Linked DNA regions of Homo sapiens. The protein of the gene in region 3 interacts with the protein of the main gene of each other region in a biochemical or structural test. Each region holds a gene or a part of one and is shown on either strand. Other genes may lie near its edges.

Region 1 (8,633 bases), on a different chromosome or scaffold from region 3:
CACTACACCACAGCTGTTCCCAGTATAAACTTCCCGGCACTGCAAACAAGACCCAATTTCTTAATAGTCACACTGGAATCGTCCAGGCCATTTAGCAGTAAGCAACTGAGCTTGCCAATGTTAACAAAGTTATTAGGCAAGAACAATATGTTGGCTGGGAAAATGACAGAGATTTTAACTAAAAATCTGAAAATATGTATTACTTTATAATTTACAAATACATAAGGCAACTTTGCTTTTAACCATATCGTTTAACTTTCTGTCTATTCAATTTACAAGTGTGAATCTAAGAAATTCTATGTCTGCCAATTTCACATTTTTTCCATGCCCTCTTTCAACAGGTTGCCTGCAATTAAAGGCTAAAATATCATTAAAAGAACTTCACATTTTTACATACTCTAATTTATAACAAATTTTCTTTGTTAAGAAATTAAATCATTTGTCTTTATAAGGAAAAAATGAGAAGGTACACTCTAAAGAACTTTTACACATGCCTAAATAATCTTCAGAAGTAAATAATACTTTTGAAGTGACATTTTACTTCCCCCTACCCCAGAATAAAAGTAGGGTACTGAATATTCATCATAGATTTCTCTAAATTTTAAAGCAAACTTTCCTAAATAAGCTTAAATGTAGGTTTAATACAGAACTACTCATTATAACACTTGTTCTTTCTTTAAAACTTGACCAATTCCACATTTGCTCCTTTTCCCAAATTACATTTTTCCCTTACAATAATTTTCCACACAGAAAATTTATAAAGATTTTTCAAAGTCTACTTTTTATCTCATTTTCTTTTTCAACTGTCATGTTCATTCGATTAATGACGCAACGTTATTTAAAAAACAATATTTCGACATTGCTATTTTCGTGCTACATTCGATCTCATAATACCCCCCAACCTAGAGAAACATTCTAAATCCGACCGGCAATGTCATTATTTTTAAATTAGTAATTAAGCGAACGTTATATTTCCATATGGAAACCACTACAAAAATAACGTGCTTTCTAGCCCAACAATAGCTAATTATGTATTAAGCTAATTGAGACAAACCATGTAAACAAAATCTAAAGATAGACTATTCGGCGGTAGAAGCTATGATGTAAACCACATTTCTGTGGCATGTTGGAATGCACACTGAAGAAGCAGGCATGTTCCTTGCACATGTATACTTCGGGATATCAGCTCTTATAACAAGAGGGTGCACTCAACACCTCGTCTATCCCACAATATTTGGAACAGAAATACCTTAGTTTTTTATTAACGTGCTACCACTACAATACGCTTATATGCAGGTATCTGCTCTAGGTTTAGTTTTCCCCTTTCTGAACTATATGTTCATAGTCTCTCTTAAGTAAATACATGGGCATTGTTTTAAACACAGGAAATAATGATGAATGGTTCATGCGATATAACGATCTCACAATATGAAATTATCTGGACTATATAATCACTGCACCCAGTTAAAAATTATTTTTCAAATAGTAACCTACAAAGGTCAAAATGGGGGGAGGGGACAGGTTATCTGTCTTGGAACTCAGAGGGCAAGAGAGAAAGGAAAAGTCTGTGCAAAGCATATGGTGAAATAACCAGTGTTCTTAACCACACATCGCTTTGATAAATACATTTTTGTCCTAAAGAGGGCCGCCCTTTCACATTGCAAACACGGACACTGGCGGGGATCGAGGGGACATATCCTTGCAGCCTTTGGACAGGTTCCAGTAACACTTGCAGACAAATGAAGGTTTGCATTCTTGAAACCTATCCATATGGATGCAGTTCCCAAATCCCTGCTGCCTCTACCACTTCCAAATGCGTGCAAGGAGAGTCGGACACACGCACAAGCATGCAGAACAGGATCTCAATTCCAGCACGCACACCGCGAAGTAGACAAGTGAATTCTGCTGCTGGAGTCAACTGTCCGCCCGCCCCCGCCGTTTAAAAACACGCAAAAATTAACCTCGCTATTAGGAGGCTATGCTGAGGAAGTGTTCCAAAGAGGAGAACCGGTGCAGTCCAGCGGCCGCTGCCTCGCGAGTGCAGACTCTCCCCGGGTCAGTAAAGATGCGCACTAGGCTAGGTACCTTCGCCCAAGTGTTACTCGAAGTGCCAAATTTGCCTTCTCGCCCCCTGAAATGCAATCCGAACTTGCGGCCCCACTGCGAGGTTGGCGGGTGCCAGCTTTAGCCTTCTTAGAAATGACAGGAAACCAAATGGGGAGATGGGAGACAAACGCTCAACACACGAGTGCGCTCACAAACACACCCGGAGCCCAGTAGCTCCTCATGCTCGGGCACTTTGGAGCCTCAGATCCGGCAGTGGCGAAGAGAGAATCGAAGCGAGGGAGAGCGGGGTGGGACGTCCCCGACTCTCTCCCGGCCACCGCTCGCATGATTCCCGTCCCTTTCGGGGCACTTGAGTGCCAGCGGGCGTTCCCCACCCTCAGTCCCAGAACTCCAACTCCGCACCAGATCGCGCTGTCGGAATTCAAGTGCCCCCATCTTCCCCAAATCAACAGCCTCTCTCGTCCCTACCCAGCCCCTTCTTTGGACTCCAAACACAAGACCTCTCCTACCCGCGCCGAAAACTTTTTCCTCCTTTCGCAACGAGATAAGGCAAGAAACCAGGTCAGCCGCTACCGCCACCCGCTCTGCCCAGCGCCTGGGTGGCGGGCGCCGTCCCTACCTGGCAGCTGCGCTCCAGGTGGCTGTCCCACGCCGGTCTCCGCGCCTGCCCGGTGCGCGGGTGGCGTCCGCTCCACCTTCCCTTCGTCTCCTCCGGCTCCGCGTTCAGGGAGCGACTGTCCTTAAGATCGTGCCCCCCTGCCCGGAGCCGCCCTTCAGTTCATCGCCCGTCTTCCCAGAAGCGCTGCTGCGGCCCCGGCGGACTGATGAGGAGCCTGGAGATCCGCGATGGCACCGATGGCCCCGCGGTGTGCGCTCCGGGGTCTGAGAGCGCTCCGCCCGCGGGCAGCTGCGGCCGCGCGTCACATGCCGCCTCCGGGCAGCGGCCGCGGCACCTGCCCAAGCGGCAGCGCTCCCGGCTCGGCAGTGCCGCCCCCGCGCCCTGTGCTCCCCTGCACGCTCCGGCCCTTTCTGTTCACGCCCTTTTCCCTCTGTCTCCCGCCTCACTTTTTCTCTTCTTTCCGTCTCCTTCTTTATCGTGTATTCCCTTTCTCCAAAAGCAGAGAGAAGGCGCTCCAAGGGGGAGGAGAGGTCTTTTCCTCCCCACGAACTCTTCCTCTGCCTGGTGGTGGCGGTCGTGGCTACTGCTGGCCGCTCCTCCTCTCCTTCCTCCTCGCGTTCCTCCTGCTCCTCCTCCTCCCCGGACTGAGAGAGCTGGTGTAATGCACAGGCTGCGTGCTTGAGACCAAAACCTGCCCGGCTTCTGAGCATGCCCAGTTGCCCTGCCGGCGCCTAGCTCCATTCCCGCGTGCCCGCTGGGCTCCGCGTTCTCCGCCTGGCAGGGGGCGAGGAGATCCCAGGGTACTCCTGGGGTGGGTTGGCTGAAAGCGGAACACCAAGCAGGAGAGAGGGGGGCCTCACCCACCCAGCATGGCCTCACCTGTTCCCAAATTGTGCCTCCCGCGGCGCTTCAAAGATAGATTTTGCCGGTCTGTTAGTTTTGTTGTGTTCGCTTTTAAATTGGTTTCCCTGGACTGCTTAGAAGGACTGGAAGGAATTCGATTCCTTGGGCACAACTTATCGATGAGTGAACTTCAGCTCAGTTACAATATACGACTCCATGGCAAACCTTTCTCTAAGGAACAGTCTGATGCATCTACTTTTTGACATTTAGTGAGTCTGTTTCTGCAGAGCAGTGTAATAGAGGACGACTTGACTTTTCCCTCCCTGGACAGTTACACCTTGGGAGAAAATAAGACAAGCATCCATGAAGAAGACACTGACGTGCACGCGCGCGCGCGCGCGCGTACACACACACACACACACACACACACACACACACACACACACACTTTTTTAAATCAGAAAATAAAATGAAAGATATAACATTGCTAGCCAGTCTTTTAAAGCTCAAGAGGAATGAAAATCTAAGAAAGAAAGAAAGAAAGAAAGAAAGAAAGAAAGAAAGAAAGAGAGAGAGACAGAAAAGGTTATTATGTACTACTGCCAGCTAACTATGTAAGGAAAAAGTGGAGAGATACCAAATTTGAAAAGATACCAATGAGGCTGTCCCACGGCACTCTCGAGGTTTTGTTTAAAAAGCACATAAGGAAAGATAACAGAGGAATCTCACAAGAAAGGACAAGCATAACAATGATAACTGAAAAAGAAGAAAAGAAAGAAAAAGGAAGGAAGGAGGAAGATAAAAAGAAGAAAAAAGCAAGAAATTGAAGCATAGTATGAAATGAAATATTTAACAATATTAAAGGCAGCAAATGATTTTAATTCTATTTGGAACAAGAAGATAAATAGGAAAAGATAGAGCTCTTTGAAAAATTAAGTAATTCTAAGAGATTAGAGAAACACCAGTATATGAATTCCTTTCTGAACCTATATTCTTCTCTAGGTAGAACAATCTTTAGGAGAGAAGAGACTAAACTTTGCGTAGAAAAGATTGAGATCATGCTGGGAAAATAGCTAGTGAGAAAGCATGTGGCTACTTAAATTAATTAAAATATCTAGGCTTAGGTAAATTGCATCCAGGATACTAGAATAGTAATAATAATAACAATATTGTAGCCTTTTTATTGGGATACCTCTCAGAAGAAAATATAACAGTTACTTTCAGATACTTCTTTAATCTTTAAAACAATCAAATGAGTATTTTATCCTTGTGTACTAAAGGAGAAAGGAATTTAAAGGAATAATTTAATTGTCCATTATATAGCTAGTAAGAGGAACATGAATTCGGATTTAATATCTTTCCCATTACATAGAATTGTTATTTGCCTGTGGAAACAGGAGTAGCTTTGATAATATTGATCCATAAAGAACAGGCAAGGACCAAAAGAATGGACAAGTAGTGATTATGTAGTTTTCAGAGAAAGACAAAAGTTATTAATTTTTAATGAAAATATTCTGGTATGTATACAATGGTTAAGTTTGAGACTGGCCTCTGGCAATGTTCTGGAGAAGATACTGAAATAAATCATTTGTGACTAGTGAGAAAAGAAAAGGAAGCAACTACAATTTAGTAAAATAAATCATACCAGATTAAATTCATTTCCACTTGTAAATAGTCACTAAACTCATAATACAGTATTTCCTGATTTCAGCTAACCTTCCCATTATCATTATGGACAAGGTAAATGTAGATGGCATGTTTGTATCAAACAAATTACAGTTTAGACAGAGTTGCCTCCAGTTTCTTGGTAAGTGGATTCATGCTGGGCTTGAATAAGGTATTGGTCCTGACCTTGGTGCCCGATCATTCAGCAGATTTATCAAATTATATTTCAGAGGAAAATATAAATGGGATACTTAATAGATCTGAGAATGAACCAAACTGGAGGCAATGCTTATTTACAAGATGCCAAAAATCAGAAACCAAAGAGTATTTACCTTTGGATTTTCATCTAAAATGAAGGAAATCAGCTAGAACTGGAAAATACTTAGAAATCCTGCATTTTAGGTTTGTTTAAAAAAATACACAAGATAAGCAAAGGATTTATGCAGTTATGAAATGAGACTCTGGTTCTGGACAATTAGCTAATAGCACTCACTTGCCTTTCTACCATAAAATAGCTATAAAACCTGGAAAAACTATATCAAACATTTTTTACTTCTGAACCATAACCAACATAGTGCTGCAATTTGGGGTAACTGGAGGCACATGGAATGAGCCCATTCCCATGGATTATTTTTCCTCAGGGGATATTTTTTTCAGCAGAAGTTTTGGGAGGTTGAGAATAAGCAGAGAGCTGCAGTTTCACTGAGCAGAGGGCATATAGCTCAAGAGCTTGGAGCTATATAAAGTAACTAAGGTTTCTGGAGGTAAGCAAGGTGACAGAGAGGTGAGTACCAAGAGGCAGCACCGGAAGTCTGTGTGGCAATTCCTCTCAGTTCGTTAGCTGAATTGCTAGGCTGCATGTGTCCAGAGGCATTATTCTAGAGACCTGACAGATACAGTGCAGTGGCAGAGAGGCTGAAATTTGAGTGGACATTTTAGAGATCACACAATTCTGAGGAGATGTTGGAGTTCGGTTCCAGTCAGAATGGAAAGACTTTGGTGAACACCTCAGGCATTAGGATGAAACCCTTGAAGGATACTCCTTAGATAGAAGGATGATGTCCTAAGAGAAAGAATAAACTGAAATAGATTTGACTGAACGAAGCAAAAACTAGGCTTCTGTAGGGTTAGGGTGATCTACCAATGATTTAACCACCTGCTAGAACACAACTCAAAGTTTATGAGAGGAAGAAAACATAAGCTAAAATTTCTACAAATGCTGCATGCAATCAAAACTTACCAGACATGCAAAGAAGCAGAAAAGAGTACCTGATGGCAAAAAAAGAAAGAAAGAAAGAGAGAAAGAAAGAAAGAAAGAAAGAAAGAAAGAAAGAAAGAAAGAAAGAAAGAAAATACAGTCAATAGAGCTCAAGAAATGACACAGATTTTGGAACTAATAGGCAAGGGCTTTTAAATAACCATGAACTACCGTGGAGATGGGCAAAATGGATTAAAAAACAGAGCATTTCAGCAGGATATTAGGTTTCATAAAAATAATAAAATGAACTTTGTTGAATTGCTAAATCAAGAAGTAATTACATAGGTTTAAAAACCACCTGGATACTACACAAATAAACTGATGGTCTCATATAGAAATCAATAGAAAATATCCAGAGAGAGCAGAAAGAAGAGAGAGAGAGAGAGAGAGAGAGAGAGAGAGAGAGACTAGCAGAAACAACATTTGAAAAAATCATGGTGAAGAACTCGAAAGGTATTGATATGGTTTGGCTTTGTCCACATCGAAATCTCATCTTGTAGCTCCCATAATTCCCACATGTTGTGGGAGGGAGATAATTGAATCATGTAGGTCTTTCCCGTACTGTTCTCATGACAGTGAATAAGTCTCATGAGATCTGATGGTTTTAATAATGGGAATTTCCCTGCACAAGCTCTCTTCTCTTGTCTGTTGCCATGTGAGATGTGCCCTTTACTTTCCACCATGATTGTGAGGCCTCCCCAGCTACGTGGAAGTAAGTCCAATAAACCTCTTTCTTTTGCAAATTGCCCAGTCTCGGGCATGTTTTTATCAGCAGCATGAAAATGAACTAATACAGATATCAACCAAGAAATTCAAGAAGCTCAATGAACCCCAGGCAAAGAAAACCCCATCTAGGCCTATGAGAGTCAAATTGCTGAAAGACGAAAAAGAAAATTTAAAAACAACCAGAGGTTTAAAAAAATCACCTTTGGGGGAACAATATAAATGAACATTGATTTCAGCAGAAATATCATGGAAGGTAGAAGATAATAAATATATTTCAGGTACAGAAAGAAACAAATAAAAACTATCAAACCAGAATTCTGTGTCCATTGAAAAGAATCGAAAAATGAAAAAGATTTAGACTGACAAAAACTGAGAGACTTCATTGTTAGCTGACTATAAACTACAGAATTTACTCAGGGTTATTCTTCAAGCTGAAGGGACATAGTCTCACATTGAATCACAGAAATGTAAGCAAGAATAAACAGCCCCAGAAAGGGTAAATGATTGAGAATTTATAAAAGACTAACTGTTTGACACATAAAGAATAAGAGTATCTTGTGGGGCTTATACTGTTTATTAAAGTCAAATATAGAATAACAGCCTTAAAAGGATAAATATAAGATCCTTGCGTTTGATAATTTAAGGTAACAGTGTTAAGGATGATGTTTTAAGTGTAACCAATGAAAGAATGACATCAAAACGCACAACAAAAAAGGTAATACAGAAAATAAAATTGAATTATAAACCATACCTGACTGAGGTAAAAGAATGCAGGAAAAGAGGAATTAATGAACAAAGAACAGATAGGGCAAAGAGAAAATGATAATAAGATAGTAAATTTAAAACTCAACTGTGTTATTCATTACATTAAATATAAATGGCTGTGTGTGTGTGTGTAAATTAATAAGCTGATTCTGAAATTTTTATGTATATACGAGGAACCAAGATAAAACATTATTGAAGAATAAAATTGGATGTTTAGACTTACTATCAGATTTCCAAACTTATTATAAGGCTACAGAAATCAAGATATTATGGTATTGTCAGAATGAAAGTAAAATAGACCAATGGAAAATAATAGAAAGTCCAGATATAAACCCACACTTTTATTTTAATCTTAGCAGCCATCAAATCAGTCAATAACAGAGGAAACTAATTTATGGTGTTAGAGAGTTACTTGGTTAGAAGAGAGTGAAGAGAGTATTTACAAAAATGGGGAAATAAAAATACATGGGGTGATGGTAATGTTCTATCTTGAGCTAAGTGGTAGTTACTAAAATAAATTGATATGTAAAAATCCATCAAACTGCACACTTAAAATGTGTGTGCATTACTGTGTGTTTATTATACCTCAGATTTTCCAAATTGTATATTGAGTATTAGATACAAAGTACTAGGGCCCAGACATGATGGAGAACTGAAACTTAAGGAACATCAAATTCCTGCTCTCAAGAA
Region 2 (4,379 bases), on a different chromosome or scaffold from region 3:
TTATACTCTTTTTGTAATACTGTGATGGGCCTCATGTCTTGATAAGTTAAACTTTTGTTTGTACTACCTGTTTTCTGCGGAACTGACGGATCACAAAGAACTGAATCTCCATTCTGCATCTCCATTGAACAGCCTTGGACCTGTTCACGTTGCCACAGAATTCACATGAGAACCAAGTAGCCTGTTATCAATCTGCTAAATTAATGGACTTGTTAAACTTTTGGAAAAAAAAAGATTAAATGCCAGCTTTGTACAGGTCTTTTCTATTTTTTTTTGTTTATTTTGTTATTTGCAAATTTGTACAAACATTTAAATGGTTCTAATTTCCAGATAAATGATTTTTGATGTTATTGTTGGGACTTAAGAACATTTTTGGAATAGATATTGAACTGTAATAATGTTTTCTTAAAACTAGAGTCTACTTTGTTACATAGTCAGCTTGTAAATTTTGTGGAACCACAGGTATTTGGGGCAGCATTCATAATTTTCATTTTGTATTCTAACTGGATTAGTACTAATTTTATACATGCTTAACTGGTTTGTACACTTTGGGATGCTACTTAGTGATGTTTCTGACTAATCTTAAATCATTGTAATTAGTACTTGCATATTCAACGTTTCAGGCCCTGGTTGGGCAGGAAAGTGATGTATAGTTATGGACACTTTGCGTTTCTTATTTAGGATAACTTAATATGTTTTTATGTATGTATTTTAAAGAAATTTCATCTGCTTCTACTGAACTATGCGTACTGCATAGCATCAAGTCTTCTCTAGAGACCTCTGTAGTCCTGGGAGGCCTCATAATGTTTGTAGATCAGAAAAGGGAGATCTGCATCTAAAGCAATGGTCCTTTGTCAAACGAGGGATTTTGATCCACTTCACCATTTTGAGTTGAGCTTTAGCAAAAGTTTCCCCTCATAATTCTTTGCTCTTGTTTCAGTCCAGGTGGAGGTTGGTTTTGTAGTTCTGCCTTGAGGAATTATGTCAACACTCATACTTCATCTCATTCTCCCTTCTGCCCTGCAGATTAGATTACTTAGCACACTGTGGAAGTTTAAGTGGAAGGAGGGAATTTAAAAATGGGACTTGAGTGGTTTGTAGAATTTGTGTTCATAAGTTCAGATGGGTAGCAAATGGAATAGAACTTACTTAAAAATTGGGGAGATTTATTTGAAAACCAGCTGTAAGTTGTGCATTGAGATTATGTTAAAAGCCTTGGCTTAAGAATTTGAAAATTTCTTTAGCCTGTAGCAACCTAAACTGTAATTCCTATCATTATGTTTTATTACTTTCCAATTACCTGTAACTGACAGACCAAATTAATTGGCTTTGTGTCCTATTTAGTCCATCAGTATTTTCAAGTCATGTGGAAAGCCCAAAGTCATCACAATGAAGAGAACAGGTGCACAGCACTGTTCCTCTTGTGTTCTTGAGAAGGATCTAATTTTTCTGTATATAGCCCACATCACACTTGCTTTGTCTTGTATGTTAATTGCATCTTCATTGGCTTGGTATTTCCTAAATGTTTAACAAGAACACAAGTGTTCCTGATAAGATTTCCTACAGTAAGCCAGCTCTATTGTAAGCTTCCCACTGTGATGATCATTTTTTTGAAGATTCATTGAACAGCCACCACTCTATCATCCTCATTTTGGGGCAGTCCAAGACATAGCTGGTTTTAGAAACCCAAGTTCCTCTAAGCACAGCCTCCCGGGTATGTAACTGAACTTGGTGCCAAAGTACTTGTGTACTAATTTCTATTACTACGTACTGTCACTTTCCTCCCGTGCCATTACTGCATCATAATACAAGGAACCTCAGAGCCCCCATTTGTTCATTAAAGAGGCAACTACAGCCAAAATCACTGTTAAAATCTTACTACTTCATGGAGTAGCTCTTAGGAAAATATATCTTCCTCCTGAGTCTGGGTAATTATACCTCTCCCAAGCCCCCATTGTGTGTTGAAATCCTGTCATGAATCCTTGGTAGCTCTCTGAGAACAGTGAAGTCCAGGGAAAGGCATCTGGTCTGTCTGGAAAGCAAACATTATGTGGCCTCTGGTAGTTTTTTTCCTGTAAGAATACTGACTTTCTGGAGTAATGAGTATATATCAGTTATTGTACATGATTGCTTTGTGAAATGTGCAAATGATATCACCTATGCAGCCTTGTTTGATTTATTTTCTCTGGTTTGTACTGTTATTAAAAGCATATTGTATTATAGAGCTATTCAGATATTTTAAATATAAAGATGTATTGTTTCCGTAATATAGACGTATGGAATATATTTAGGTAATAGATGTATTACTTGGAAAGTTCTGCTTTGACAAACTGACAAAGTCTAAATGAGCACATGTATCCCAGTGAGCAGTAAATCAATGGAACATCCCAAGAAGAGGATAAGGATGCTTAAAATGGAAATCATTCTCCAACGATATACAAATTGGACTTGTTCAACTGCTGGATATATGCTACCAATAACCCCAGCCCCAACTTAAAATTCTTACATTCAAGCTCCTAAGAGTTCTTAATTTATAACTAATTTTAAAAGAGAAGTTTCTTTTCTGGTTTTAGTTTGGGAATAATCATTCATTAAAAAAAATGTATTGTGGTTTATGCGAACAGACCAACCTGGCATTACAGTTGGCCTCTCCTTGAGGTGGGCACAGCCTGGCAGTGTGGCCAGGGGTGGCCATGTAAGTCCCATCAGGACGTAGTCATGCCTCCTGCATTTCGCTACCCGAGTTTAGTAACAGTGCAGATTCCACGTTCTTGTTCCGATACTCTGAGAAGTGCCTGATGTTGATGTACTTACAGACACAAGAACAATCTTTGCTATAATTGTATAAAGCCATAAATGTACATAAATTATGTTTAAATGGCTTGGTGTCTTTCTTTTCTAATTATGCAGAATAAGCTCTTTATTAGGAATTTTTTGTGAAGCTATTAAATACTTGAGTTAAGTCTTGTCAGCCACAATGTTGTCATTGGTTCAAATCTGGTATTTCCTTTGGAGGAAAAGGGGAACAGCCCCTCTGGGACCAAACTATAGTCCCCTGAGATGGGGAACAAGTACAATCCTTGATAACAATCCTGGAATACTTCATCTTTGGAATGTCTGAAAGTACATCCGGTTCAGTAATTACTAGGCATATTAAGTCTTATGTTAGAACAGACTCTGCTAAAGGTAAAAACACCTTGAGGGCAAGTTAGGAGGGTCTGGCTAGGAGGTCACAGAGCAGATGCGGTGGATGGAGTGGCAGAACCCCATGGCTAAGGTCATAAGTGCTCCTCCAGTCACTACTGCACACCTTGCTGAAGGGGGAGGATCAGCCCTCCTTTAAGTGGCTGTAGGTGGGAAGTTTATGTTTGCTCTTTTCAGAAGATGTCTGAGGAATGAGCCAGGATTAGATTAAGATGGTTAAGATGCATTTTAAAATCATTGTGAAGCCCACTTTCTCCTAACTTCTGACTTTCTGACCAGACAAGTGAATGAGCTGGAGAAGCAAGGAAAAAGATTATTCTGTTTATCTGTGTAGACACTGAGGGTCCATCCCACTTTCAGAGTATTTTAAAATTTACCCACTTTTGGAAGTGGAAACCCTTTCTTTAAAAGACGTGATAGCCAGAAGCCCAATGTATAGAAGAGATGAAAGTATCTACCCCCATCCCCTGGGGCTCATGCACAGTTCAGTGTGAAAACTGTAGATGTAGTCCAAATGAGGAAAAACCCCTTGCTTATACCCTGGAACTCTAACCAGCTAGCCTTTCATAACTCTGCACATATATACAAAACTGCACATCCAATGTCATTACTTGAGGCCAGTTTCCAAGTTTTACATTAATTGATAAGCAACATATAGCAGGAAGGTTTCCCTGGGAGACCTCATAGGAGGAGCTCAGTGTTAGACTTTGTAGCCGGACAGGCTTCCTTCCTTGGACAGTTATCTAGGCCCTTGATGTGACCAGAGCTGATAGTAGAATCAGGATGTGTACCTAGGCTTGTTTCTTGATCTGTGAATCGGCCACACTGGAAGACCTTTGCCTTGGCTATTGTTTCTCCATGTTTCAGGTGACCTATAACAATGACACTACACTGGTTGGTGGGTTAGGTAAGGTAGGTGGAGGGCTGTTCCGCTGGATACACCATGTTTAAAAGTGGCAGTCTCTGAAGCAGACATCATCACGTACACATCAAACCTTGTATCATCTAGTGGTGCTCATTCTGGGCCCAGGTGTATGAAGGTATATTCCTGGTAGGTTTCCTTATTACAGTTTGTTGTTTTGGTATAAAAGTTGCTTTGGTGAGAAATAGTTTAACACTTAAATTATACCAGTTACATTTATTGAGAAAATTATTGGGAAAAAGCGGATTGGGGT
Region 3 (8,319 bases):
CTTGGCTTCAGCACACTGGAACGTTTTATATTTTAAGGTTTTGTATTTAGCCACATGACCAAAGTATCAAGCACTTGTAAGTGGTTAAAACTAAACTGAAATAGGCAAAATGCTATTTTTGTCAAATAATTCCTCAAAACATACCTTTCCAGATTTCCATTTGATTTCGGTGGACTTCGAAGATGGATCACCACTCTCATTCAGATGAAATTCTTTGGAGAGAACTTTATTTTCAAAGTAAGGATTTTCATCAAAATACTGTAATAAATAATTGAAAGATTAGAAATATGAACAGGTCTTCCAACCAAAGCTCACATTAATTTCCACAGTGGCAAACAAGATTAAGTTAGAGATACTTACAAAATCTATTCTGTAACCTGATTTAATATCTTCAAATTCTGTCACTTCAACTCTGGTCAAATAATGCAGTGCCTCTTCATCTTCCTCCCCAAGCAGTGCAGACACTAGGCCAGAAAATTACAGGTCAGCTGAATTTTCAACAGGCACACACTAACAACAATTTAAGTGATCCCTTTAAAATTTTTCCGAACTTAGTGAGCATCTTTGGTTTTATAAACCCATTATTAACTAAAGGCAATTGCTCAATATCAGACTGTCACTATCTTTCATCAAGCAATTAGAATATAGCTTCTCCTAAACAGAATAGAAAGCAGTAGCTGTATATCTTTTCCCGTCTTTGAGGTTTTTTTTTTTTTTTTTTTTTTTTTGAAACAGTCTCACTCTTGTCGCCCAGGCTGGAATGCAAAAGCGCACAATCTCGGCTCACTGCAACCTCCCCCTCCTGGGTTCAAGCGATTCTCCTGCCTCAGCCTCCCAAGTAGCGAGTAGCTGGGATTACAAGCGCGCGCCACCACGCCCAGCTAATTTTTTTTGTATTTTTAGTAGAGACGGGGTTTCAACCTGTTGGCCAAGCTGGTTTCGAACCCCTGACCTCAAGTGATCCACCCACCTCGGCCTCCCAAAGTGCTGGGATTACAGGTGCGCCACCGCACCCAGCCTGTCTTTGTTGCACGCAACCCAGCATGCTGGACTAAGTCTTCACCAAGCTTCCTCCATTCTAACAAACACTGTTTATCCTTTAACAATGCCCTGTCCAAAACATACCTTGTGGATGGTTGACAAATGTTGTTACCCAAAAATTTGGGATTTTGGCGATCAATTCTGACCTCTTCTGAAAAAATGGTTGGCGGAGTTTGTTATATTTCTGTTCTACTTTCAAAATCTCCTCACTGGCTTGTTCATTAAGTCTGAAGCAAATGAAAAGAGATGTTGACAATGATAGTATTTAACAAATTAAAAAATTGGTTGAGATTACAGAGTGTATTTACTTACTAGCTTGAGTCATGCAAAATAACCAAATTATAATAACCATTATCACCTAATTTAGACACTCAAAACTAAGATGGCAATTTTGTCTGATTTATCAATAAACACTGAGTAATAATGACTGTTAAGAGTGCCCAAACTCAACACTCTGGTAACGTGTGTATTTACTTCGCCCACTCCATTTCCAGTCCAATTTCAATTGTTTCCCTCAAGCGCGATTTCTAAATAAAGTGGCTAATCCATAACAAAGTTGTAAGGCAAGTTAGAGCAACCACTGATGCCACACTGCTAAACCATCAGAAGACCTACACTGCAATTCAGACAATTTTCAGTCTTTGAAAGCAAACCCAAACCTTGTAAGGTCAATGCACTTTCAAAAACTTCTGTACAATCACTTCACCAAAAAACACTGAATCTACATAAGTATTTCCAACCAAGTTAGAATCATTTCCCCTTTGACAGTGGATAGATTTGACCATAGCTTCGATAATTACCGGGCTATTAGACACATCTCAGAAAATTTCTCCGAAGTATATTAAGAAAAATGTTACCTGTCTATTTCATTTTGTACTTCATCAATGTGTTCAATCGCTTCTTGCTGTTCTTTTTCTGCAAAAAAGGAGCAAAAAACTTAATTCTAAGATAAATTTACCTAGTTTTCCAGATGTTAATACTATAATATTCCAAAAGCCATTAAAACAAAAACAAAAACGCCTAGTACAAAGGCAAGCGTTCCACATGTTCATGCTTGTAGCTGACTAATTTCTTTTTAATTAATTAAAAGACCATTTACAAGTCATGCTGTCTGCTGGTTTACTCAGAAATTGGTTTTCTATAGCGCCTTTTTAAAGAGTTTCACTACAACAGACCGATCATTAAGGTTTCTACTATGAAAGACACAGAATAACCTTATTCAGAAGTCTTCACGTTTATTATTTCACATTATACACTTGCAAGAGAACAGTAGCAGCTGCTAACTAGAATATGGAAACTAAACCCATGACAATGATACAAATTAGGCCACCACTACCACCTATCAAGGTAAAACCACCTTTCATAGAAAGTTGACGACTCTGCTATTACGATGAAGATACCAGGCACGCCTACAAAGACTGGAAAGTCACGGGGCACCATCCTACACCCTGGCCTTCGCCTTCTCAGAACATGAACCCCTCCAACCCAATTCAGGCGGGCAGACCTCAGATGCGGCCCCACACGACTTTGGAGCACTTACTGGGAGCAACTATGAGATCGGAAAGCAGTGAGGCACAGAAGGGAGAGGAAGAAAAGGGGGTGTGCTCTGGAATAGGTGCCCTTTTGTCCTGTAAAGACTACAAACCCCCTACAAAGCTAAGTGGGTGTGAAAGGGCCAGATCGCGCGGTTCATTTCCGGTAACCATCCCGGATTGGCAGCCCCCCTGCCGAGAGCCTCCTAGGCAGAGGCCAGCTTTCTTAGCCATTTCCAAGACCCCCGATACACTGGTCGCGGCGCCAGGTTTCTCCGCACGCTGGCGCGACGGGGCGGCCGCCCCACGTGGGGAGTGCGCCCGGGCTGGCCAGAGCATCCTCCCGGCCGGCCAAGGCCCAGCGCGCGGCCGCCCGCGTGTTCCCCGCGCCCCCACCCCACCCGAGCTCCAGGCAGAAGCCCCGCCGGGGCCAGCCTCTGGGCGGGGGTGCCGGGGGCGCCGCCGCGGGCCGGGCGCGAAGCGGAACCGCGCGGGAGGTCGGGCGCGGGGCCGCGTCCGGCCGCACCATGTGGCGGCGGCGGCGGCTGATGGGAGCGAGGCATCATGGCGGAGCACAATAAAGAGAGGCTTCTCGGGAGGGAGGGAGGGGGAGGAGAGCGAGGGAGGGGGGAGAGGAAGGGGGGGTCTCCTCCGCCCGCGCCGAGCAGGCCGCAGCGCCCCCGCCTCGCAGCGCGGCCGCCGCGGCGCGGGCCACCCAGGCCCCCAGCCCAGCCGCGCACAAAAAAGGGCGCCGAGTCCGCGGGCCCCCGCCCGGCCGCGCCGCGCCCCCCCGCCCGGCGCCCCCCGCGCGCGCCCCGGGCCCCGCCGGCGGCCTGCGGGCCGGGGCGGGCGGCGAAGATGGCGGCGCGGGCCGGCCCCCGGGCTCGCTGCTCTCACCTGAGGTCTCGTCGGCCCCGTCGTGGTTGGAGTTGAGCTCCTTTTTACTGACTTTGGCCGCCGGCGCCGACATGGTGCTGCTCCGCGGTCGGGGGGGGAGCGGGGAGGGGGAGAGAAGGGAAGGCGAAGGGGGCGGGCAAGCGGCTTCCCCTCACGCCACACGCGCGGGCGCCCGCTCGGTCCGGCCGCCTCCTCCCGGCGCTCGCTCGCTCTCCCTCCCCCTCGCTCGCTCGCGCGCGCTACCCTCGCGGCCTGACGCCGAGGGACGGGCTGGGGCGGCGTGCCGGGCCCCGGCCCGGGCTCCTGTTCGCGGAGGGGAGGCGGAGGCGGCGGCGGCGGGCGGCTCGGCTCCCTCACTCGCGCTCGGCGATCCAGCCAGCTCGCTGCTCGCTCTCCCGAGCCGCCTCCTCCTCCACCTCCTCCTACGGCGAGGGGCGGGCGCAGGGCGCAGGCGCGCCAGGCCCCGCGCGGATGCTCCGCCTCCGGCCGGGGAGGCTCGCGCCGCGGCGCCATTGGCCTGGGCGGCGGGATGAGGGGGCGGAGTCGCGGCGCGGAGACACAGGGCCCGGCGAGAGGTGGGAGGAAGGCGCGCGGCGACGCACGGCCGCCCCCCGCGCCGCGTCCCCTCCCCCGCTCTCCCCTCTCCGGCCCGACCCAGGACACTGGCGCGCGGCAGGCCGGTGGGCGGGGCGTCGCACGGAGGCGCGGGTGCCCCCGGCCGGCGCGTCACGTGGTGAGCGAGCGGCTTCCCTGCTCCGCGGGGCACCGGGAGCGGGGCGCCCACCACCCCGAAAGTGCAGGCCCGGCCTCGTATGGGGGCCCCGAATTCCGCCCGGCCTCTCGGCGCCTTCCACTTCGTGGAGAAAGCAGGGGGCACCCCATTCTGGATGCCAGATGGGGAACTGCCGATCGGACTCAAACTCGGGCTCGTGTGCGAAGCCCCAGGCTGTGTAATCCGCGCGCAGGGCCATTCCTGGGTTTTAGTCCAAGCCCTGCCCAGCAAGCTTGTACCCTTGAGCAAGTCACCCTTCCTCTCTGAACCCGTTTCTGTTATGAAATGATAAAGGTTACGACACTGAAGCCACATTAAACTCGAAGTCCTGTGAAGGCAGGGAGGTACCACATTAGTCCGCGGTGCCCAGCGCCCGCAAGAATCATACTGAGCGTTAAGTGCCAGTTTCAGCAGCGCATGGCACGGTTATCTCACCGAGGCCTCACAACAGCCCCAAGCGATAGGCGGTGTTCTGTTCATAGAGATGAAAGGGGCCAACAAGTTCTACTTGAGAGGCAAAGTTCTGAACCACTAAGGAGGGCCAAAGCATTTTGTTTAAATAATACTTTTCAAGTAATGCGGATGCCCCACATTCTGTCCCTCCAGCACCCCAAGACATGAACCATAAAAAGCCAGAAAAACCCTGATTAGTAGCATTTGTTTGTTTGTTTTGAGACGGGAGTCTTGCTCTGTCCCCCAGGCTGGAGTGCAGTGGCGCAATCTTGGCTCACTGCAAGCTCTGCCTCTCGGGTTCAAGCAATTCTCCTGCCTCGGCCTCCCGAGTAGCTGGGGCTACAGGCACGTGCCACCATGCCCGGCTAATTTTTGTATTTTTAGTAGAGATGGAGTTTCACCACCTTGGCCAGGCTGGTCTACTGACCTGGGGTGATCCACTCACCTCGTCCTCCCAAAGTGCTGGGATTACAGGCGGGAGCCACTGCGCCCGGCCAGTACCATTTGTTGATTTTAGTGATACGCTGGCCAATTTCAAATCCTGGCCATGCAATAGCTCACTCCTGTTATCCCAACACTTTGGGAGGCCAAGGCAGGAGGATCGCTTGGGCCCAGGAATTCCAGGCTTCAATGAGCCCCAATGCAGCCACTGCACTGAAGCCTGAGTGACAGAGCAAGACCCTATCTCTAAAACAAAAACAAAAAAATACCTGAAATCTCTCTTTGGACATTTTTAACCAGAACTTGGGGTTGGAATTCTGCCTTCCAGAACTCACACTTTACCATTGGCTCTTTTTTTTTTTTTTTTTTTTTGGTGGGGGAGGGGACCAAGTCTCATTCTGTCTTCCAGGCTGGAGTGCAGTGGTGCCATCTCAGCTCACTGCAACCTCCGCCTCCCGGGTTCAAGTGATTCTCCTGCCTCAGCATCCTGAGTTGCTAGGATTACAGATGTGAGTCACCACGCCCTGCTAATTTTTGTATTTTTTGGTAGAGACAGGTTTTCACCATGTTGGCCAGACTGGTCTCAAACTCCTGACCTCAGGTGATCCACCTGCCTCTGCCTCCCAAAGTGCTGAGATTACAGGCATGAGCCACTGAGCTCGGCCCACTATCAGCTCTTAAAGCTCAAGCAGCATCTTTCATGTTCAAGACAGTGCACGGTGAGTGTCTTAGCCTCCCGAGTATCTGGGATTACAGGCGCCCACTACCATGCCAAGCTAATTTTTGTATTTTTTAGTAGAGACGGGGTTTCACCATGTTGGCCAGGCTGGTCTCGAACTCCCGACCTCAGGTGATCTGCCCACCTCGGCCTCCCAAAGTGCTGGGACTACAGGCATGAGCCACCCACTGTGCCTAGCATAAACTAAACTTTGTTGCAAGTGACAGAACCAAGATTCTAAACCAAGTAGCAATTGACAAAGCCCTTACCTTAAAACAGTTTTTCTATTTTTATTGTTGTTATTATTATGAGACAGGGTCTCTCTCTGTCGCCCAGAACCATGGCTCACTGCAGCCTTGACCTCCTGGGCTCTGGGGATTCTTACACCTCAGCCTTCTGAGTAGCTGGGACCACAGGCAAGCACCACTGCCACCTTGCCTGGCTAATTTTGTTTTTATCTTTTGTAGAGAGGAGGTATCACCATGTTGCCCAGGCTGGTCTCAAACTCCTGAGCTCAAACCATCCTTCAGCCTCAGCCTTCCAGAGCTCTGGGATTACAAGAGTTAGCCATCGCACCCTGCCTCAGTTTTTTTAATGTGACCAACAGTCAGAAGTACTTTTGACATCATGACCTAGCACACACAAACCAAAACTTACCCTTACCAAGGGTGATGTGATTCTAATTTCCTATTTAAAATGCAGGTCACACCCCACCAAATTGATTTCACGACCCGCTCCTGGGCTGAGTCTGTCTGAGAACACTATGCCAAGGGCTGGCTGCTTCCATCCTCAAAGCCTGACCCATAGGGTCACTCCTGACCCACAATGTCTCCTAAGTGCCTTATCTGCCTGTTTCCCAAGCACCTGCAGGGGTCCCAGGGAACCCTGTAATGCCTTCTGATGGGGGAGTGGGCTTTCAGGTTCCCTTTCTGGCCTCCCAACCCTCCCTGCCACCTCCCTGCCCCTCTTTTCCTGCCCTTCCCCACACAGTGCTTCTCAAGATAAATATGAGCACACTAGGAAGTTGAAGAGAAAGAGAAAGCAAAAGGGCCAGGGGTGTGAGTAAACACAGGCGAGCCGGGGGCACACTGAGAGGTTATTCACCCACTCTTAGGACTCTGCTCTCTCCCCGTCTCCAACACCAGAAGCTCTGCATTCTCTCTTCTTGGCCTCTCCCCTCACTCAGAATTCCTCCCTTGCCTCTCTCCTCTCCTCCTGGCCCCTCTGGTTGTTTTTTTTTTTGTTGTTGTTGTTGTTGTTCTTGTCGCCCAGGCTGGAGTGCAATGGCACGAACTCGGCTCATTGCAACCTCCGCCTCCGGAGTTCAAGCAATTCTCCTGCCTTAGCCCCCCAAGTAGCTGGGATTACAGGCATGCATCGTCACGCCTGGCTAACTGTCTTTGGTAGAGATGGGGTTTAGCCATGTTGGCCAGGCTGGTCTTGAACTTCTGACCTCAGGTGATCTGCCCACCTCGGCCTCCCAAAGTGCTGGGATTACAGGCGTCAGCCACCGCGCCCGGCCCCCGGCTCCCTTTGAAGAGGACAGAACCCCACCGCCAGAAAGACTGGAACAGAGAGAGGCTGGCATTCCCCCACAGTGCTGCAGTGTCCCAAGCACAGACCAAAAAATCTCCAGAGCCTGGAACATCTCCCCCGCCACAGACACATACACATCTCTTTGAGCCTCCTGTTCTGATCTGTAAAATTGGGATGTCCACAGCATACGGCTGTGAGGATAGAGAAGTGCTTGGCACAGCTTCTGGCATGCCATCAGTGCCTACTAAGCAGCAGGAGCTGTTCTTTGGGTTTAGATGAACCCCCTCACACCTTTCCATCCCTTCCAGTCCTGTTAATGCTCCCAGGAAGCTCACTGGAAGGAAACTAGGAAGACTCACCCACATTTTGCTGCGCACAAATGCACTCTAGAGCACTGATGATGTGCTAGGCGCTGTCTAGTGCTCCCCTTAGATTTCAGACTCACAGCAAGCCTGGAGATCAGTACTGTGGATCCCATTTTATAGAAGAGAAAACAAGCACAAGTTGTTTTATGTGGCTCACCCAGCAAGGTAGGTTTCAAGCTGGGCAGGAGGTCTCTGCATCCCATGTGGAGGAAAAGGGACTGAGACCCAGTAAAAGTGCCAACAGGTCCACACTGAGCCCTGAGGTAGGACTCCTCCTCAGTGCTTCTTCCATAAGAGTTGCCTGCCCTCAGCCAATCAAAGCTTCCCGTTTCCTTGCAGGCCCTGGGCCTATCCACACCCAGCCCAGGAAGGCTCCACCACAACCCTCCCCTATGAGCCAGACCTAGTCACCAGAACAGTCAACTCTCTATCCAGCTCCAGCTACGTCTCCCAAAATGCAGCCCTCACCTCTAAGTTTAATGGGGGGAAGGGCAGGCATGAAACTGCTGGTTACAATGTAATGACAAGAGGGTGAGGCAGCATGACTCTGGGACTCCTAACTCC
Region 4 (7,904 bases), on a different chromosome or scaffold from region 3:
GCTTACCCCAGCAGGTTCAGTCCCTGCCTCTAAAATCCTCTTCCCCTCTTCTAATCCAGCCTCCCCAGAGCTTACTGCAAGTCTTGTCTCCCCAGAAACAGCCCAGTGAAAGGCTCTGAAATGGACTCACTTCACTACCCATCGGGGAGCGACTTTCCTAACCAGGGCTCCGGGGCTGCCAAGACTGATCACAGAGGCAGTCAGTGGGACTGCCTCAAAGGGGCAGACGGTGGCCCTGCCCAGCCCAGCCTCCTTACCTCCTCCTCTCCACTCACGTCCTCCTCTTCACCTTCCTCCTCCTCATCCTCGTCCTCCTCGTCTTCCACTACCTGAGCATCTTCATCATACTCCTCCTCTGTGCAATCGAAATGGGGAACGGAAACAGAACTAGTGGTGAGCTGGCTCCGCCCCCCACACAGCACAGGCCCCTTGTAGCGTCTTCAGTGTGGGGCTCATGACCCTCCCACACCCACCTAAGTCCAAAGATGGAACACACTAACTCTCATGAAAACAGTGCTGACATAATTAAACACATCCTGAAGTTGTGCCAAAGATAAGCCCCCCTCACAAGTGTTATGCATGTGAAAGGCCCCTTCTGGAGGCCTCTCACACCGAGACCACCAGGAAATTGTCAGAGCACAGCAACAGGTTCCAGGGCCCGGGAAAGCGGCAAGATCAAATCAAACTCCTCAGGTTAAAGGTGAGAGATCTGAGGCACAGAGAGAACTGACTTGTTCAAGGTCACGCATCGAGTCACTAGTTGAGCTGGGCCTAGGGGACCTGGTCCCGGGACTGCCAGTTTTGGCTCCTTTCTGCCATATCACAAGATCCCCACCAAGGCAAACATGGTCTCTGAGTATCTTGCAAAACACTCCCAATTGAACAAAGAAAACCAAAATCCTGTATCTGAATTAATTAATCAGGCAAGTGTCTCCATTCTCAACTTTATCTGGCCACGAAGATGCATGGGAAAGCTGCACTGTGCTGGTGGCAAGGGAGAAGGGGAGGGAACAGGACTCCCTTCTTTTCCCTCCTTCCTTCCTGTAGGCCTCGACTACACACCACACTGCCAGGGAACCCAACAAGTGGCCTGCAGTCCTCCACTTCTGAGCACCTGGGGCTCCTGAGCACCTGAGCCTGTGCCCCTAGGTGTGGGGCTGTAGGCTGCAACCACCAGGGGGCCCCACAACCCCTCTAGCTCTGGACCTCCTCTCCACTACTGAATACCTAGATGGGAAAGAGGGGTCCTCAGGCCACACACTCTTCTCTCTCTATCCCCTCCCTCCCTCCCTGGGAGAGTGTCTAAGTGCGGGTCACACTACAGAAAGACTGTAGAATCCCACTCCCTGGGGGCTTTGGAAAAGGGACAAAAATTGAAGTGGGGATTCAGTTGGATGGTTTTAAAGGAGTTATTATGCAGTTGGAGAATCTCAGGATATTTCCATGAGCATGGGACTCATGCTTTGTTCTTTTAGGGAAGTCAACCAATGAGACAGATTAGGGACTATGGAAAACAAAGCAGACAGCCCTACTCCCCTCCATAGCTTTGGAAGGTGGTAGCTACCAGACAGACAGCCAGCCTTCAGTAGCTGGGTGGGGGCCTCCCAACACCCAGCCCACCCACCTCTGCAAAGCCAAGGACGAGCCCCAAGGCCTCAGCTGGGCCCCTGCAGCCCTGGGCCGCACCCTGTCACCCACCATCCTCATCCTCCTCCTCATCATCCAGGCCCTCCACGTAGCCCTCAGCATCCGAGTCAGGGGCCTCCTTGTCGTCCCGGTCATAGCCGTCGAGATATGTGAGTTGCGGGAGGAGCTTGAACACATTTTCTCGGTAGTCGTTCAGGTTGGTTACCTCGCAATTGAAAAGGTCTAAGCTCTTGAGGTTTTCTAACTTTTTCTGCAAGCGGAAAAATGAAGCCAACAGTAAGTGATTTGTGGGAGGAAGGTGGAGGAACAGCCCTAGCAAACAGGCAAGGATGCCATGAGATAGCATGCGCAGACCATGACTTCCAGGTGATAAGGAAGCTTGGATTTGGCTCTGCTTAGCCACAGTGTTTGCCCAGACATATCACCTGCAGTTTGTGGGCCTCGGCGTCTCCATCTGGAAAATGGGGGGTTGGACTGGAGGATCTTTGAAGCCTTATCCAATGTTAACACTTTTATTCTGCAATTACAGCTTCTGTCTTAACAGTGATTGACTTGAAATTAGCCTGGGGCTTTCTTGGTGCATGAGCCAAGAGGTTTACTGCCTCTCCCTGAGACTAAGGAGCCAGAGGGAAACCAAAAGTCAACTTGAACTAACAAACTAACTCCTTCTGCATCTGATAATGATGATGATAAGGGCGGTTAACATGGCACTTCATGTACTGAGTCACTTTATCTCACAACCCCTGTAAGGTAGAAATAATTATTAGTTAATTTCACATATGTGGAAATGGAGGGCACAGGATTTGGTAATTCATCAGGCAGCCCAACTTCAGACCTGTGCTCTTACTCTTTGAATATTGCCTGTCAAAAAAGGACAAGAGAAAAAGCAATGGAGGACCCCAATTCTGTCCATGGTATTTGACACGATGTGCTCTGTCAAAGCTTTACACCAGACGGGTTCTAGCCAATGTTATCCCTGTTTGATGGTAGAGGAAACTGAGGCCCAGGAAGTGAAGGGTCATACTGCTTGCAAGTAACTGAGCTACATTTTGACTTCCCACCTCACCCACCTTTGAGGCACCAGGTACAAAAAAATCCCATCCCAGGCTGAGTCCCCATTCCAAAGGTGGCCAGGTCTAACAAGGGAGTGAAACCATTGCTCCTTGGAGTCAATGTCGGGAGCTAGGTTGCTCTCTCTATGACCTTGCAGTTGAGACCTGGGTCATTCTCAGCAGAAGCCAAGGGCAGGGAGGAAGTCTTGACAGTGGTCTGTGTGGGCAAGCCCAGCACCTGCTACCAAAAGCAGCTTCCCGCCCCAGGACGGTAAGGCAACACACACTGACAAGCAGGGGCGGAGAAAGCACTGAGACACGTGTGATCTGGGCAGGGGGCAGTGGAGAGTGTGAACATGAACGTGCCTGAGTGCCTGACCCCTAATGGTGACTGAATCACAATGTTTTACAAGGATTTTATATACTCAATCCCCATACCTCACCCATATACAGAACTTCAAAGACTTTTTCCTTTTGTAATGACATTATAAAATCAAGACTTCCAGACAGATCAAAATAGTTTGGCTTTTTCCTAGGAGACCAGTGAAAGGCCTGAAAAGAAGTTCTGTGGGAAGCACATTCTACTAGTTGGCCCCAATGCCATCGATGGACAGGTAAAGAGCTTGGAAAAGAAATGCCAGTGTCCTCTTCTGCCACACTGGCCACCAGCAAGTCCCGTGAGCATCCATGGAGAGCAAGGAGTGCCTTTTGGGACAGAAACCCTGAAAACTCCAGCCCAATCTGAGGGATACCCAACCTCCCCTATAAACCCAGAAGGGAAATTTGGCAAACGTGGCCAATTGTCCTCCTGGCCTTTCCCTGATTCTAAGATGCCTGAGGTGCTGCTGCTGCTGCTTTTTTTTTTTTTTTTTTTTTTTTGGAGACAGAGTCTCACTCTGTCACCCAGGCTGGAGTGCAGTGACGCGATCTCAGCTCATTGCAACCTCTGCCTTCCAGGTTCAAGAGATTCTCCTGCCTCGGCCTCCCGAGTGGCTGGGACTACAGGCGTGTGCCACCACGCCGGGCTAATTTTTGTATTTTTAGTACAGATGGGGTGTCACCATGTTGGCCAGGCTGGTCTCAAACTCTTGACCTCAGGTGATCCACCTGCCTTGCCCTCTCAAAGTGCTGGGATTAAAGGTGTGAGATACCACGCCCGGCCTTATGAGGTGACTCTTATATGTATATTCACAACAGGTGTATTTACTTCATGTGGTAGTATTTCCTATTCCAAAAGAGTTGTTTTCAGTGACACATCTTACAGCTGATTTCCTTAAAATCAAAGGAATACAGCGAATCAGATCCTGGTAATTATAGAAAGTGTTGTTCTGAACATGACCTGCCCCTTTCTGGCTGGTAAATCAGTGAAGCTTAGGGGATGTCTATCTCTACAAGGATGAGCAGAGGAGCCAGAAATGCTACCCAGGCCCCTGAGAGCCTGTTCACTATCGCAACAAGGACTGGTGACCAGGGGTCACTCTTCTCCACACCACGTTGAGGAAGGCCTGCCTGCACGAGGCTCTCACACCACACGGCTCTCAGTCATTCCAGGGTTCTATGTCAGGACTGACTCATTTCTCACAGTTCAGGGGCCAGCGACCCAAGGAGAAAACTGGAGTCCACCTCCAGGGCCAGTTTAATTCTTGGATTGCTCCTCCCTTCCCAAAAAGGGGCAACAAGCCATGCCCTGAACCTGAAGACATTACAGCTCAGGTTTCCAAAGCTGAGCAGAAACTGAGTGGAAAAGCAGGAGACCAGAAATTGAAACTAGGGTTCTACGCTACCCGTACAATAGCTGCCCATTCTGTCTGTGACCTTGGTCAAGGTATTTAACTTCTCTGGGCCTCAGTTTCTCTATGGACTCAGCAGAAACAATAGCTCAATTCTATCTCATAGCACATCATGAGAGTCAAAAAAATTAAGTGGGAAAAGGACAAATGCAAAAGTAGTATTTGCTGATGCCAATTCCTCCCACCTCCTACCCCTGCAGGGAGGGGAGGGTCCGAATGACTTACCAGTGGCTCTATTGTGCTGAGGTCTTTAATTTTGTTGCCACTTAAATTTAGATGCGTGAGGTTCGGACACTTTTCTGCCAATACTTCCAGGCCCCCTGAGACTCTGTTATCGCTTAGTTCAAGCTAAATAAGGCAGGGAAAGAAAAAGCAGAAACAGCTTTTAAAATGAAGGCTACCGGCTCAGAGCTGCCCGGCTTTCCCCAGACGGGCAAGAAGGGAAAGCAGTCTCAGGCAATTGTCTGGCATGTTGGTGCAAGCACCCGGCTTTCCCTTCAATTACTCTTTCTAAACATAGGTAATAACCCTTCCCACTCCCCACCCCCGCCTCCCAGCACACACAGACTCCACTCTATTTACCTTCTTAAGTTTGTTTAACTTTGGTAAGTTTGCGATTGAGGTGAGGCCTACGTTGATTGTACTTAAGAATTCCAGTTCTTCAAATTCATCTGTGAGGCCTTCGAGTTTGCCTTCATTCGACCGACTGTTGTCCAGGACAAGTTCTTTCACCTGAAAGAAGGCCCGACCGTGTGAGCGGGGCTGAGGAATGGGGCTGAAGCAGGGGGAGGGTGTTAGAGGACTCCTCAGAGAACAGGGAGACAGACGCAGGAAGCAGTCAGTCACTCCGTCACTTCTTCTAGCTTTCCGGATCACTGTGCTGCCAACGACCACAGGATGGATTTGCCCACCCTGACTTTTCTGCCTTTTCAACATCTGGGTGAGAGGAGGCCTGTGGTGAGCCGAGCTGCAGAACCAGGGGGCCACTCCAGACAGGGGCCTTGGCTGTACCGCAGAAGACAAACCCAGTAAGCCCTGCTGCCTCTGCAAGGTTGGTGGTCTCATTCCAACCCTGCTCTCGCATTCTCCCAAAACCCACATGCACCAGCCACAGCATTGTTAGGGACTTCTGGGCCTTGCCCCGCCACCCCAATGCCCCCACAAGACCCCCACATGCCCAGTTGCTTTCACCCACTCCTGCCATCACAGCAGAGCCTGCCGCTGTAGCTGGCATTCACATGGCAGTACCCATGTGGCCTGTCCTGAGGCAGGCGCAGCAGACCAGGGGCTCCTCCAGCTCTCCCACCTCTAGCCCAGCACTGTCCAACAGAACTTCCTTCAAGGACGGAAACGGTCTGTACTGTTCAAGACAGGGGCCACTAGTCACATGTGGCCACGGAGTGCGGCCAGTGAGACTAAGGAATAGAGCTTTTAATTCTATTTAATTTCAATTAATTTAAGTGTAAACAGACACAGGTAACTACTATATTGGATAGCACAGCTCTAGACTTTGCTCTTCACGGTCCAGCATAGACGTGGAAGGAGAATGGAAACCCACAAACTTAGGATGGGCCCATAATGAAATGCTGAGATCTGTCTCAAAGTCTGTGCTTGGAGGCACCTCTGTGGCCCTGTCTTTTTCCCCACTCAGCTCCCTTACCCACAATTTGGGTCCTAAATCCTTTATTTCTAATGAGGTAGAAAGAACGAATAAAAAGCCACCCTCTCACAGGGTTGTTAAGAGGTAGACTTAGCTGAAGGTGAAACTGCAGGTTCTAATGAAGAAGGTAGAAAGACAGGCCGAGGAAAAGTAACCAGGTCGCAGGCATGAAATGACCCTGGGAGTAAGCAAAGGAGACCCGGTGTGTGGCCCTCCAGGCAGCTGGCCCAGAGTTCTCCTTCCTGCCCCAGAGCAGCCAGCTTCTGGGAAACCCGGCCTCTCTGGACTGGAAGACACCTTAAATGTGATCCCTGCCCACACCTGGTATCTCAAAGAGTCCCTTCAGCCCAGGACACAGCAGCCCAAGCTCCCTGCAGGTGCCAGGAAACACTTACCAATGTCAACTGGATTTGTTGCCTCCCTCCCTGGAACTTCCATGCACAGGCCCTGATTTCTCACCAATGGGTCACATGGCACAAGCCTTCCTTCTCAACAGCAGTCCAGCATTGTTCAAAGGGTTGCTCCTGCCCCTCAGGGCCTTTTCTTCTCTTGGATAAGCAGCCAGGCTTTCTAACCTGTCCCTGTCCAGGGCTGCTCCTGCTCCTTTGAGCAGGCCAACATGCCTAGCTTCTTCTTTCTGGGCCCAGAATGACTAGGTGCCCCTCTTACTCAGGCATCTCTGGGCCAAGTAGAGATATGGGGGAAAGGAGGTGGAAACAGAGTCCACATGAGGCCTGCTATGCCCCTCCTCAGCCCCCTCTTGCCAGTGGGCAGAGCAGGGGAGCACTGGGGTACACATCTGGATCTCAGAGTCCTGCAGGGCCCTGCAACTGCCCTGCCTTCATTCTTCACTGGTGGGTGGAGGCATGCCACTCCGCCCGGGACAGCAGCAATTTGTGGGTTTCATCTAGCACAGCCCACAGAGCAGGAGAACCAGGGAGCGCAGCCCTCTCCTGGAGCTAAGGAGCTCTCAGCCTAGGAAATGGTCACCAAAGCCCACCTTCCTGTTGGGTCTGGGAGGGGGAGGCTCAGTCCTTTCCCACCCCCTCAGTCCCTGAGATCCAGATGTCCAGGTCAAGCCACCTTCTCAAGGTCATGGCAAGAGTGCCTGGGAATAAATCCTGTGAGGCCTTCTGCCCTAGGGCAGGAAAGCATCGCAGAGCCAGGAAGCCAGGCCTTAGGGGGCCAGTGCAGATGGAGGGAGAGTAACTGTGTTGGGGGAGGGGAGCCATCTCCTTCGTTTGCAGTAAACACTGGAGTCACGTGGCCCACAGTCTTCTTTAGTAATTGGTTTCCTTGGAAGGCCTGGGAATTCTTGAAGCTCCACCAAAGCAAGGCAAATATGAGAAGAGATTCCAGTCTACCCTCAAAGACTGCAGACATGCGGTTTTTCTAGACGGGTCAATGGCTTCTCCTTACTGCCGTTGGCCGAGGAGAGGAGGGCCTCAGAGAGCAGTGCTGGGGAGCCCAGGGAATTCGTCCAGGAAGTCGGTCTCCTTCCTGGAGAGGAACAGTGCTGCCTGCCACCCCTGCCCACAGCCCAAGGGGCTGCTGCTGGGGTAGGCTGCCTAGGAATGCTACAGATAGACATAGGTTTCGGAGCCCTGACGAGGCCAGTCCCTGGCTCCTACCACAACACCAAAACTGGTGGCTGCTCCTCTGGAGGACAATACTCAAGCAATCACTATTAATGCTTTGATTAAAAATAATCGTCATATCTTTCTCAAGCACTCGCTAGGCACACTCTAGGTGCTT

The links.
Region 1: the proteins of SET (region 3) and CHRM3 form a complex in vitro, tested with the Homo sapiens proteins (one study listed by BioGRID).
Region 2: the proteins of SET (region 3) and FOXO1 form a complex in vitro, tested with the Homo sapiens proteins (one study listed by BioGRID).
Region 4: the proteins of SET (region 3) and ANP32A form a complex in vitro, tested with the Homo sapiens proteins (2 studies listed by BioGRID).

Annotation. Positions count from the first base shown.
Region 1 is NC_000001.11:239,381,281-239,389,913, reverse strand, and holds the start of CHRM3 (muscarinic acetylcholine receptor M3), read right to left. Parts: upstream 3,347-8,633; 5' UTR 2,687-3,346; intron 2,674-2,686; exon of another isoform or gene 2,577-2,673; intron 1-2,576.
Region 2 is NC_000013.11:40,554,263-40,558,641, reverse strand, and holds the end of FOXO1 (forkhead box protein O1), read left to right. Parts: 3' UTR 1-2,975; downstream 2,976-4,379. UniProt on the Homo sapiens protein: Transcription factor that is the main target of insulin signaling and regulates metabolic homeostasis in response to oxidative stress.
Region 3 is NC_000009.12:128,684,807-128,693,125, reverse strand, and holds the start of SET (protein SET), read right to left. Parts: upstream 3,905-8,319; 5' UTR 3,544-3,904; coding exon 3,471-3,543; intron 3,153-3,470; exon of another isoform or gene 3,140-3,152; coding exon of another isoform or gene 3,100-3,139; intron 1,957-3,099; coding exon 1,899-1,956; intron 1,269-1,898; coding exon 1,126-1,268; intron 465-1,125; coding exon 361-464; intron 259-360; coding exon 145-258; intron 1-144. UniProt on the Homo sapiens protein: Multitasking protein, involved in apoptosis, transcription, nucleosome assembly and histone chaperoning. Isoform 2 anti-apoptotic activity is mediated by inhibition of the GZMA-activated DNase, NME1.
Region 4 is NC_000015.10:68,782,699-68,790,602, forward strand, and holds part of ANP32A (acidic leucine-rich nuclear phosphoprotein 32 family member A), read right to left. Parts: intron 5,222-7,904; coding exon 5,072-5,221; intron 4,838-5,071; coding exon 4,715-4,837; intron 1,898-4,714; coding exon 1,699-1,897; intron 356-1,698; coding exon 258-355; intron 1-257. UniProt on the Homo sapiens protein: Multifunctional protein that is involved in the regulation of many processes including tumor suppression, apoptosis, cell cycle progression or transcription. Promotes apoptosis by favouring the activation of caspase-9/CASP9 and allowing apoptosome formation.